Regions from separate parts of the Homo sapiens genome. Here region 2 is linked to region 1. The links come from fine-mapping of genetic effects on gene expression. A gene starts in region 1. The other region holds a variant in brackets. All regions are shown on one strand. Distances are from middle to middle.

Region 1 (5,373 bases):
AAAACACCTAACTGGTTATCGATGTTCCCTTCTGCAAAAGCTGCCAACATCATCTTTTCAAAACTCAAATGTCACACCTCTACTTAAAAGAGTTAGCTAGGCCGGGCGCGGTGGCTCACGCCTGTAAGGCGGGTGGATTGTTGAGGTCAGGAGCTCGAGCCCAGCCTGGGCAACATGGTGAAACCCCATCTCTACTAAAAATACAAAAAAATTTGCCAGGCATGGTGGCACATGCCTGTAATCCTAGCTTCTCGGGAGGCTGAGGCGAGAGGATTGCTTAAACCCAGGAGACAGAGGTTGCAGTGAGCCAAGATCGCGTCACTGCACTCCAGCTTGGGAGACAGAGTGAGACTCTGTCTCAAAAAAAAAAAAAAAAAAAAGAGCTAGCGAAAACATCAAATTCCTTGACTTGTTCACAACCTCACTTTCCATCCAGACCCAGCACTCCTGACCACTCCCAGGCTTTGAGCAGGGAAGGCCTCACCAGCTGCAGAATCCTACTCTCCTCCCAGCGCCAACCCCCAACTCAGATCACAACCCCTGAGTGCAAGGTGAGCCCCCAGCCCCTGTGCCTATGCAGTTCCTGACAAATGCTGCGTCTCAGGTGCCCACACTGGATGGAGCATTCAGGGTCCTGCAGAGCCGGACCACCTTTCCACACGCCCCCCACCCCCAGCCTCACACTACATGCTGCTCACAGACAGTGCCAGTGAAATCACGGGGGAATGAAAGAGGGCCCCGAAAACACCATCCATTATGTATCAAAGCGTGTTTGAGAACCATCTGAGGAAACCACACAGGAAACCACACAACACCAGAAGCGTGCTCTAACCGAGGCCCTGGGTCCAGCTCCTCACCATGAGGAGATGTAATGAACATGGCTTGCGCGCTGAGCACATGCCCACATCTGGCATTCTGAGTGCATGCCCGCACGAGGTCAGGGCATGGTACGGACAAGCACAGTGGAGAGGATAAAAGTAGTCTCGCAGCACAGCCAGATATGACTTCAAAAACTCACACTGGGTCCACCTGGGTGCTCACACACCCTCTCTAAAGGGGACCCCAGTGCTTGAAGGCAGGGATGCCGTGTGACATGCCTGGTCGCAGGTCAGGGAGGGCAGACACCCCAAAAGGCCTCGCAGGGACCACTGAAACCTCTGCGCCAACGGAGAGGGCTCCACACTCTGGACGCATTTTCGCTACAGATGTATCTCAGGCAGAGGCAGCATGTGCGGACTCTTTCCAACTCTGTGCGGTAAGTAGGTAAACACATCAACAGCACCTTTCACTCAGTTACAAAACGATGCACGGTGGGAAACACTAAAGAATCCAGCTGGTGTTTCAGTGACTGACATAACCAAGCACGGTAAAGAACCGCACACCAATAAAATAGACTAAATTTCTGGCTTTAAAAAATTTTCAAAATATTCTATAGTTTCATGACAACTGCAAAGCAGGCTAAGTAGCATTTTTTACCAGATTTCATAAATCAGGAAATCTCATCCTTCTGAGAAAAAAAGTGGCCAAAACAAGTCCTTAGCTCTTGGTCCACCCAAGTGGAATTAACTTCCTCTGTAGGAAGACAGGTGCCAGCAGGTGGCTACAGCCTGAGCCCTGAGCCTGGCCCCCGTCCAGCGTCTCATGTGGAAGCCCCCCAAGAAATGCAGGATTCGCTGCGGTGCTGCAACACCCTCCACCTCAATTTAATTAAGGCGTTTATTTAAAATTATCAATTAACACAGTCGGTAAAGATAAGGAAAAAGTCAGAAGGCACCACCCCATCACCACCCAACTGCAGTGTGGTATCCAAGGCCACAACTTGTGGGTGGTGACCGCAGCTTCAGAGATCAGATCCTTCCATCTTTCACCTTCATCCCGCTTCAGACGCTTTAAAAGTCTGAAAATAAACACTACTGTAGCTTATGTGTTGTCATTCTGAAATAAAGGCAGAGAACTACAAAGAATTTAGTGCGAGGCAAACATTCGTGTGCAGCATGAAGCAAACATACTTACATCTTTTGCCATGTTACCAGATCCGGGAAATCAATGCTACAAATGTTCACCTTCCCAGAGAAGAAAAATGATTTTTCTGGTAAAAAAAAAAAAAAAAGTAAGGAAAAACAAGAAATAAGTAAGAATGAAAAACGAAGTTTAAAAAATAACACATCTCAAAGGAAACGCGGACCTTCCTTCCCAAAGGCACCCTCCATCCTGAGAGCGGAGCTGGCCAAACCGACTCCCACACTCAGGATTTTCAGTCGCCTCGCCAGACGGAAATGCCCCCTGCGGAAAAGTGGCCCGCGGGCCCGCAGGGTCACCACCACTACCCCCAGGTCCCCGACGGCCCGCCCAGCGGCCGAGGGTGGGGCCGAGCCCCAGGAGCCAGGGCGCAGCGCCTCCCTCCCGCCGCTGCAGGGGGGTGCCCCACCACCCACCTGGGCACAGCCCCGGGGTCCCGGCGCAACGTGCAGGCTCGCGGCGTCCACCCCAGACCCCGGCGGCGCCCGCCCGGCTGACCGGTAACTCTGACAGGTGGGCTTCCGGGGTCCGCGCCGCGCGCCTGTCACTAGGCCTCGGGCCGCCTCCGCACGAGGCGCCTCCCGCGCGCGCCGGAACCGGGTCCCCGCGGGCCGCCGTGGGGCGGCCTCCCCTCCCCCGCCCTGCGCGCTCCGGCCGACCCTGGCCCCAGCCCCGGCCCCGGCCCCGGCCCCACCTCCAGCGTGGGGCGCGGACGCTGCTGTCGGCCGGGAGGGCCGGGCCCGGGACCCCCGCCCCGCGGTCACCTGGGGAGCCCCTACCAGCGCCGAGCGCGCGGGGTCCCCGAGGCACAGGAGCGCGCAGGGCGCGGGAGGGCGCGGGTCGGGGCCGCGCGGCGCCTACACGCGGCCGGGGCAAGGGATGGGGTGGCCGGGGGTCCCGCCCGCACCCCCGGCTCCCGCCCGCGGCTCCCGCGGCATCCCCTGCCCACCCGCACCTGGCTGCCCGGTCCGGCCGCGCGGGCGGGGACGCGGAGAGGGCGCGGTGCGGAGCGCGGGGCGGCGCGGAGAGGCGCGGGCTGGGGCCGGGCCGGGCGGTCCCGGCCGTGGCGGGGTCCCTGCCCTGGGCCGAGTGGCGCCGGGACGCGGGGCTCACCCTGGCCGAGCGTCGGGCCGGCGTGACGTGCGCGCGGCGCGGTGACGTGGGCGGCGGCGGGCCCGCTCCGCGCAGCGCGCCTGCGCGCCTTTTCGCGCCTTCGGCGCCCTCCTCCTCCTCTTCTGCTGCTCCTCGGTCTCCCGCTCCTCCCGCCAGTGCTGCGCGCCCTGGGAGAGCGGGGAGGGGCTGTGCGCGCGTGTCCGTGTGTGCGCGTGCGCGTGCGGAGATGTAGCTGGGGCCTGCGCCGGGACGGGCAGTGCGCGCGCGCGGCGTGCGCTCGGCGGCCAAGGGACTGTGTTTGTGCGCGCCTCTGACTGTGTGTGTCCGGAGAGAGAGGTGGCCGGCTGTGTGCAAGAGTGTGTGTGCACATGGGGGAGCGGGGCCGGCTATGTGCACGAGTGTGTGTGCATGTGGGGGAGCGGGAGCTGGTGTGTGCACGTGGGGGAGCGGGGCCGGCTGTGTGCAAGAGTGTGTGTGCACGTGGGGGAGCAGGGACTAGTGTGTGCACTAGTGCATGTGCACGTGAGGGAGCGGGGACTGGTGTGTGCACTAGTGTGTGTGCATGTGAGGGAGCGGGGACTGGTGTGTGCACTCGTGTGTGTGCATGTGAGGGAGCGGGGACTGGTGTGTGCACTCGTGTGTGTGCATGTGAGGGAGCGGGGACTGGTGTGTGCACTCGTGTGTGTGCATGTGAGGGAGCGGGGACTGGTGTGTGCACTCGTGTGTGTGCATGTGAGGGAGCGGGGACTGGTGTGTGCACTCGTGTGTGTGCATGTGAGGGAGCGGGGACTGGTGTGTGCACTAGTGTGTGCATGTGAGGGAGCGGGGACTGGTGTGTGCACTAGTGTGTGCATGTGAGGGAGCGGGGACTGGTGTGTGCACTAGTGTGTGCATGTGAGGGAGCGGGGACTGGTGTGTGCACTCGTGTGTGTGCATGTGAGGGAGCGGGGACTGGTGTGTGCACTAGTGTGTGTGCATGTGAGGGAGCGGGGACTGGTGTGTGCACTAGTGTGTGTGCATGTGAGGGAGCGGGGACTGGTGTGTGCACTAGTGTGTGTGCACATGGGGCAGCAGGTAGGGGGCCGGGTATGTCAGGATGTGTGTTTGTGTGCAGGGAGCAGAGAGTGCCGGCTGTGTGCGCGAGTGTGGGGGGGGGAGCAGGGACTAGTGTGTGCAGGAGTGTGTGTGCACTTGGAAGAGCGGGGCCGGGTGTGTGCTTGAGTGTGTGTGCTCAAAGAGGAGAGCCAGCTGTGTGTGCGCCTGTATGCACGGAGGAGAGGGGGCCGCTTGTGTGCACGAGTGTGTGTGCACATAAAGGGCCGACTGTGTGTGGGGCTGTGCATGTATGGAGAGCAGGTGTGTGCATAGACGTGTGTATGTGGACACACGGAGGAGAGCAGGTGTGTGTGCGTGCGTGGCACAGAGGCCTCTGCCTCTGCTGGACCCGGTGGCCTCCAAGCCCACGACGGGCCTCCGCCCAGATTCCCAACAATTCTGGGCGTCCTCGGTGCCCACCGGACGCAGCCTGGCCCGGGACTCGGGAGGGAAAGCAGGGACAGGAAAACTCCAGAAACAGTTTCATTGCATGGTGAGCCTGGTGGTCCCGGAGTCTTGGAGACTTAATCCACCCTGGAGGGCCCCGCCGCTAGGGCCAGGCCCGAGCACCCCAGCCAAGGGCGGGCTAGGCCAGAGAAGAGTCCGAAGTTCAGGGCCACAGCAGGCGGCAGAGGCTGGTGCGCGCCGAGGGTAAGGAACATCTACAGAGGACTTGAGGAGCTGACCAAAGGCCTCTCTGCCTGTGCGGTGTATTATTACATGACAGCCCACTTTGCACGTTTTATGCTGATTTTGGCCACTCCTGCCCCTCAGGCAACGCCGCACCCCCTAAAGCTCTGGTCACTTGGCTTAAACTGCTTACAAGTTAGCACCCGTTTCTTCTTTGAAGACTACCAGAAACGCTCACTTTCTGCGAGCTGGTTCACACAAATAGATACTTAGAGAACACTGATGTTCCTCAAATGGCCCTATCTTCCTAGGTCCGTTCCTTCTGTTTCACAGGGATTCTTTATGTGTTCCTAAATGTCAGTATTTGAGCCCTGATGGCAACAGTGACACCCTCCCAGCCTCTGGGGACTTCTCCCTGAGACCTGGGGGCTCCAGTTAGGAGGATACACACGTAGGGTCCAAAATTGGGGTCTTAAACGTCTTCCCCACAAATTCAGGATTCTGATAATTCAACAA
Region 2 (5,373 bases), 190 kb before region 1:
TCCCTACACTGAGCTACAGATTCAGCACATCCCTACCAGAATCCCAGCTGGCTTCCTTGTAGAAATTGACCAGTTGATTCTAAAATTCATATGGAATTGCAAGGGATTCAGAATTGCCAACGTAATCCTGAAAAAGAACAAGGCTGGAAGACTCACAAGCCCTTATTTCAAACTCACTCTAAAGCTACAGTAATCAAGACTGTGGTACCGGCACAAGCAAAGACATATAGATTAAAAGAATAGAATTAAAAGTCCACAAATAAACCATATATGTATGGCCAATTAATTTTCAACAAGGGTGCCAAGACCATTCAATGAGAAAAGAACAGTCTTTTCAGCAAATGGTGCTTGGACAACTGGATGTCCGTAAATGCATGAACATGGGTCCCTACCTCACACCATGAAGAAAGTTAACTCAAGGTGGATCACAGAACCAGATGGAAGAGTTAAAACTATAATAACTCCTACCTCATACCATACGCAAAAGTTAACTCAAAGTGGATCACAGACCCAGATGGAAGAGTTAAAACTACAAAACTCTTCTAGAAAAATCTAGGGGTAAATCTTCATGTCCTTAGATTTGTAAAACATTCTTAGATATGACACCAAAAGCATGAACAACAAAAGAAAAAATAAATTAGAGTTCATCAAAATTAAAAACTTTTGTGCCTCAAAGGACACCATTAAGAAAGTGAAACGGCAATGTACAGAATGTGAGGAAATATTTGCAAATCACATATCTGAGAAGCGATTTGTATCTAGAATACATAAATGACTCTGATGACTCAACAGGAAAAGGCAGCCCAATGTAAAAATGAGCAAAGGAAATGAACAGACATTTCTCCAAGAACATATGCAAACGGCCAATAGGCACATGAAGAGATGCTCGACATCACTAATCATCAGGGAAATGCAATCAAAACCACAATGAGATACCACTTATCACACATTAGATGGCTAGAATCAAACAGTCAGTGACAAGTGCTGGTGAGGGAGTGGAGAAACAGGAGCCCTCATGCCTGTCTGTGGGAATGTAACATGGGGCAGCCACTTTGGAAAACAGTCTGGCAGTTCCTCAAATGATTAAACAGCATTACTGTATGACCCAGCAATTCCACTCCTAGGTACATGCCCAAAAGAAATGTAAATGCATTTTCACACAGAAACCTATGTACAAATGTTCACAGCAGCATTATTCACAACAGCCAAAGTCTGTAAACAGCTGTAATGTCCATCAACTGGTGTATGGATAAGTGTGGCCCATCCATACAGTGGATTATTATTATTATTATCATTGTTATTATTATTATTTGAGACAGAGTCTTGCTCAGTCACCCAGGCTGGAGTGCAATGGCTCAATCTCGGCTCACCGCAACCTCTGCCTCCCAGGTTCAAGTGATTCTCCTGCCTCAGCCTCCTGAGTAGCTGGGATTATAGGCATGTGCCACCATGCCCAGCTAATTTTGTATTTTTAGTACAGACAGGATTTCACCATGTTGGTCAGGCTGGTCTTGAACTCCTGAACTCGTGATCCGCCCACCTTGGCCTCCCAAAGTGCTAGGATTACAGGCATGAGCCACCGTGTCCGGCCCATATAGTGGATTATTATTCAGCCATAGAAAGCAAGGAAATTTGGAGGAAGCTTAAAGACACCATGCGCAGTGCCAGACACCAGACACAGAGACCGCACATAACACGTTACTGCCTCCACACACAAGCCCAGAGTAGGAATCTACAGAGAACACATATCACACATTACTCCCTCCGCAGGCAGGCCCAGAGTAGGAATCTACAGAGACAGGAAGTTGATTCCTGGTTGCTTAGGCTGGGTAGGTAGGGTGCTAAGAGAAGGGTGTGGGTTTCTTGCTGATGTGATTCATGTTTTAACACTGGCTGTGCTGATGGTTCACATATCTGGGAATACACTAAAAACCATTGAATTGTGTGCTTTAAATGGGTGAGTTATATGGAATGTGGACTATATCTCATTAAAGCCATTTTTTTAAAAGGAAAGAAAAACAGACCCACACTGTCCACCCATCCTGTGCATCGCCAAAGCCCAGCTTCACACCCAGCTTCTGCCTCTTTGGGGAAATCTTATGGAAAAGTCTTCAGGAGGCCTTCCCTCCTCAGGCCCACCCAACTCCCTACAGGCACCAAGCAGCTCCAGACTCTGAAGAGATGCTGTCTAGAGACCATCATGGGGGCATGCTGGCTCCCAAAGGTGGCGTCTGTTTCCAACACCATTCTGTGACTGGTGTGTGTGAGGCCTTTGCCCACCCTGGTCAGCTGTGACGCCCACCCTCGGGAGCCAACAACAGGGGGTGGGTGGGAGAGGAAATGCCGGGCCTATCTCTCCGTCTCTTTGCAACTGCTAGCCAAGAACGGCAGCTCACCCTGCAGTGCACACTGTCTCTACTATGCAGAACAGAACGCTTTGCTCCACCAGAATCCCAGTGTCTTTGCAGCCACCCCCAACCCTCCAGGGACCTCCCACCCTCACACGGTCAGGCTCCATCTGCCCAAGGGTCAGTCTCCTGGGCAGCAGTGGGAGTTTGCTGGGTCCCATGCGGGGTGATATGGTTTGGCTGTGTCCTCACCCAAATCTCATCTTGGATCCTCATGTGTTGTGGGAGGGACCTGGTGGAAGGCAGTTGAATCATGGGGGGCAGATCTTTCCTGTGCTGTTCTCATGATAGTGAGTAAGTCTCACAAGATCTGATGGTTATTACAAGGGGGAGTTTCCCTGCACAGGCTCTGTCTTTGCCTGCTGCCATCCACGTAAGACAG[G/T]ACTTGCTCCTCCTTACCTTCCGCCGTGATCGTGAGGCTTCCCCAGCCACGTGGAACTGTGAGTTCAATTAAACCTCTTTCTTTTGTAAACTGCCCAGTCTTGGGTACGTCTTTATCAGCAGTGTGAAAACAGACTAACATACAGGGTTCCGAGGGCATACACCGCGGCCCAGCCATCTCACCCTCCCTCTCGGCCTGGGAACTGGGAACAGGCAGGGGTTGGGGGCCCGACACAGGTCATTTGCACGCTGGATGATACAGTAACATGACAGCCGGTGCAGGGAAGAGCTGAGAACTCCAGCCTGCTCTGAAGCAACAACTGGGAGATGAGGCAGAAATGGCCCAACCACCTCCCCTCTAAACCCTGCTCTTAAAATTCAATCCTGGCTGCCACCGTGAACTGACAAAATTAGCCAGTTTTTGTTTTTAAAGTTATAGTCCCCAAAACAGTGCATCAACAAAACAGACTTCCAGCTGAACCTGATCGCTGTTGCCGCGCATACAGCCACGAACATCATGGACAGGCAGTGTCTGGATTTCACTCTGCATTGCTGCCATGTGAACCGGGGGCTCCCTCCTGGTTTTATGTCTTTACCTCTCCTCTTAGTCTGGGCAAGATAAACATTAACCAAACTCAGACGAAAAACAAGACTCTAGAGCCACTGGTTCAAAAGGAAGAGAGGCTTATGCACATGTTTTTGCCTGAACTTTACACACTAGGACTTAATTTAATTTGCCACCCCCGTCCCAAACTTCATGCATTCTCTGAGCTTCCCAGGCCTCAGCATTGGTGGTTGCACACCACGTGAGGTTGATACACCAGCAACCCAGGGCCATGCTCGCTTAGACTAAGGTGTGAATGGTACTCGCTGAACCCTGTATCCAGGACTGTGCAGGCCACAGCCCGGGAACCTCAGAGCTGGTCCTGTAGACACCAGTGTGCTGGGGAGGCAGGGCTGACTCTTCTCAGAGCCCCAGTGCAGCTGTACCATCCCCTGATGAGGGACTCATGCTCCCCACCACCCCATGTACTTTCTTACCATTTGCCTTCTATTCTCCACCAAGTTGATGCCAATAATTCCTAAGAAAGATCCAAAGCCGAGCTAAAACCAAAGGAAGAACGAGAGAGAAACACTCATTAACGTGCCTAGAAGCTTAACACTGACATTTAAAGCAAATAATCCCGCCCTCAAAGGCATTTTATCCAGGGACGAAGGCCAGACATCCCTACCTCAAGAACCTCAACCACTGAGCAGCAGGTGCGTCTGCTGGCGTTGGGCAGGCATCTCTGCAACATCACCTGTCCTGTCTTCTCTGCTCAGAGGTTTTTAATGATGCATCTGTTTGGCTTGTGACTCTGGGGTAAGAGAAGTTCCCACTCCTCCCCCAGAGACAACATCTTTTCGGGAACCCAGGGCCACCAAGCACCACCATCTGTCCCGTCTTCTCCAGGCCTGAGATGCCCCTGAGCATGGCTCCTGGGTAAGGTATTAGGGAACTACAGCCGTGTTTCAAAAGAAGGGTTGCCAGGCACAAGGGCCACCAGTGACCCCTGCTCAGACGGCCTAACTCTGGTTGCTGCTTCGGGAGAGTGAGCAGGGCAGACCGTTAGCAGGGAGGTGCCAGGTGTGGGGAAAGGGCACCTGAGCCAGGCACAGAGGGGGCACCTGGGCCAGGCACAGAGGGGGCCCCGGGCTGCAGCACAGGCCACCAGGGGTCCGGCAGAGCCCCCTTACTCCACAGGAAGCCCCAGCTCTGGGCAGAAAATGATACTGGGATGTCGGGAAATAGACATGGGACTGTGCTGTCTTAGAACAGAGGCCACCGGCCGGGCATCCGCACCCTCCACCCAGGGCCCGTCCTGGCAGGTGACGCCCACCTGGCAGAGGAATTTTTAAAATCAGTGTGAAGAACATGCATTTCAGCAACACCCACCGAAAATCTGGCTCAGAGCAGCCAACATGGACCTGCCAACGACCGTGCCGAGGCCTAAGACGGCTCTTGCTCCCACGCAGGTGCGCCGGGCCGGTCGCACTTCCCAGTGAGTGTCTGTTGGAAGGGGTGGCCCGCCCGGCACAGCCTTGGAGTTGCTGGGGCCGTGGTGTCAAGTTTAATGCACTGGAAACCGGACTTCTTTATGTAAATAGTTTTGCCTTTTCTGTAATTGTCTGTGTGTCTGTGGTGATAGACACGTACACATGTGGCTTTCACCAACGGTTTGAGAATTCTCCAGGGATAACAGGAATATTTCTTCATGTGCTGAGCTTCAAAATACTGCAGTTCAACTCCACACGTCAAAAATATCAAAATTTCACTTCGATATACATGTATTAAAATACATCTGTTACACTACGTTTTATTTTTTGGGGATTTGAAAAAAACCACACCTTTCTTGAAAATGTGGAGATGTTTTCACGTTCTGGCCGCTTCTTCTGAGATCAGCTTCTTAAGTCTCTACATTGGCAGAAAGTCTCCACAGAAGTGACTCTTAGCCACGTTTCCTTGAAGCTGCTTTTATTTGTTGTCTCCCTAGTTTGCTTTCAGAACTGTCTGTACTACAGGCCATTTCAATCTGGTCAGCAC

The links. PIP is the estimated chance that this variant, and not a neighbour inherited with it, causes the effect.
Region 2: its variant is the best candidate, but not a certain one, in a credible set for the expression of TFDP1 in whole blood (INTERVAL, PIP 0.52).

Annotation. Positions count from the first base shown.
Region 1 is chr13:113,582,490-113,587,862 of GRCh38, reverse strand. TFDP1 (transcription factor Dp-1) reads right to left here and starts at 3,110. Exons shown (of 12, transcript NM_007111.5): 1 at 2,975-3,110; 2 at 2,014-2,089. The coding sequence starts at 2,025. RefSeq lists enhancers at 738-1,338, 3,316-4,287, 4,288-5,261 and silencers at 2,278-2,647, 3,018-3,347.
Region 2 is chr13:113,767,618-113,772,990 of GRCh38, reverse strand. It overlaps TMEM255B (transmembrane protein 255B), which reads right to left. Exons shown (of 9, transcript NM_182614.4): 3 at 3,831-3,893. Among named protein-coding and RNA genes, the nearest start is that of TMEM255B, 11 kb to the right of the region's middle. The variant G/T (reference allele first, on the strand shown) is at 2,791.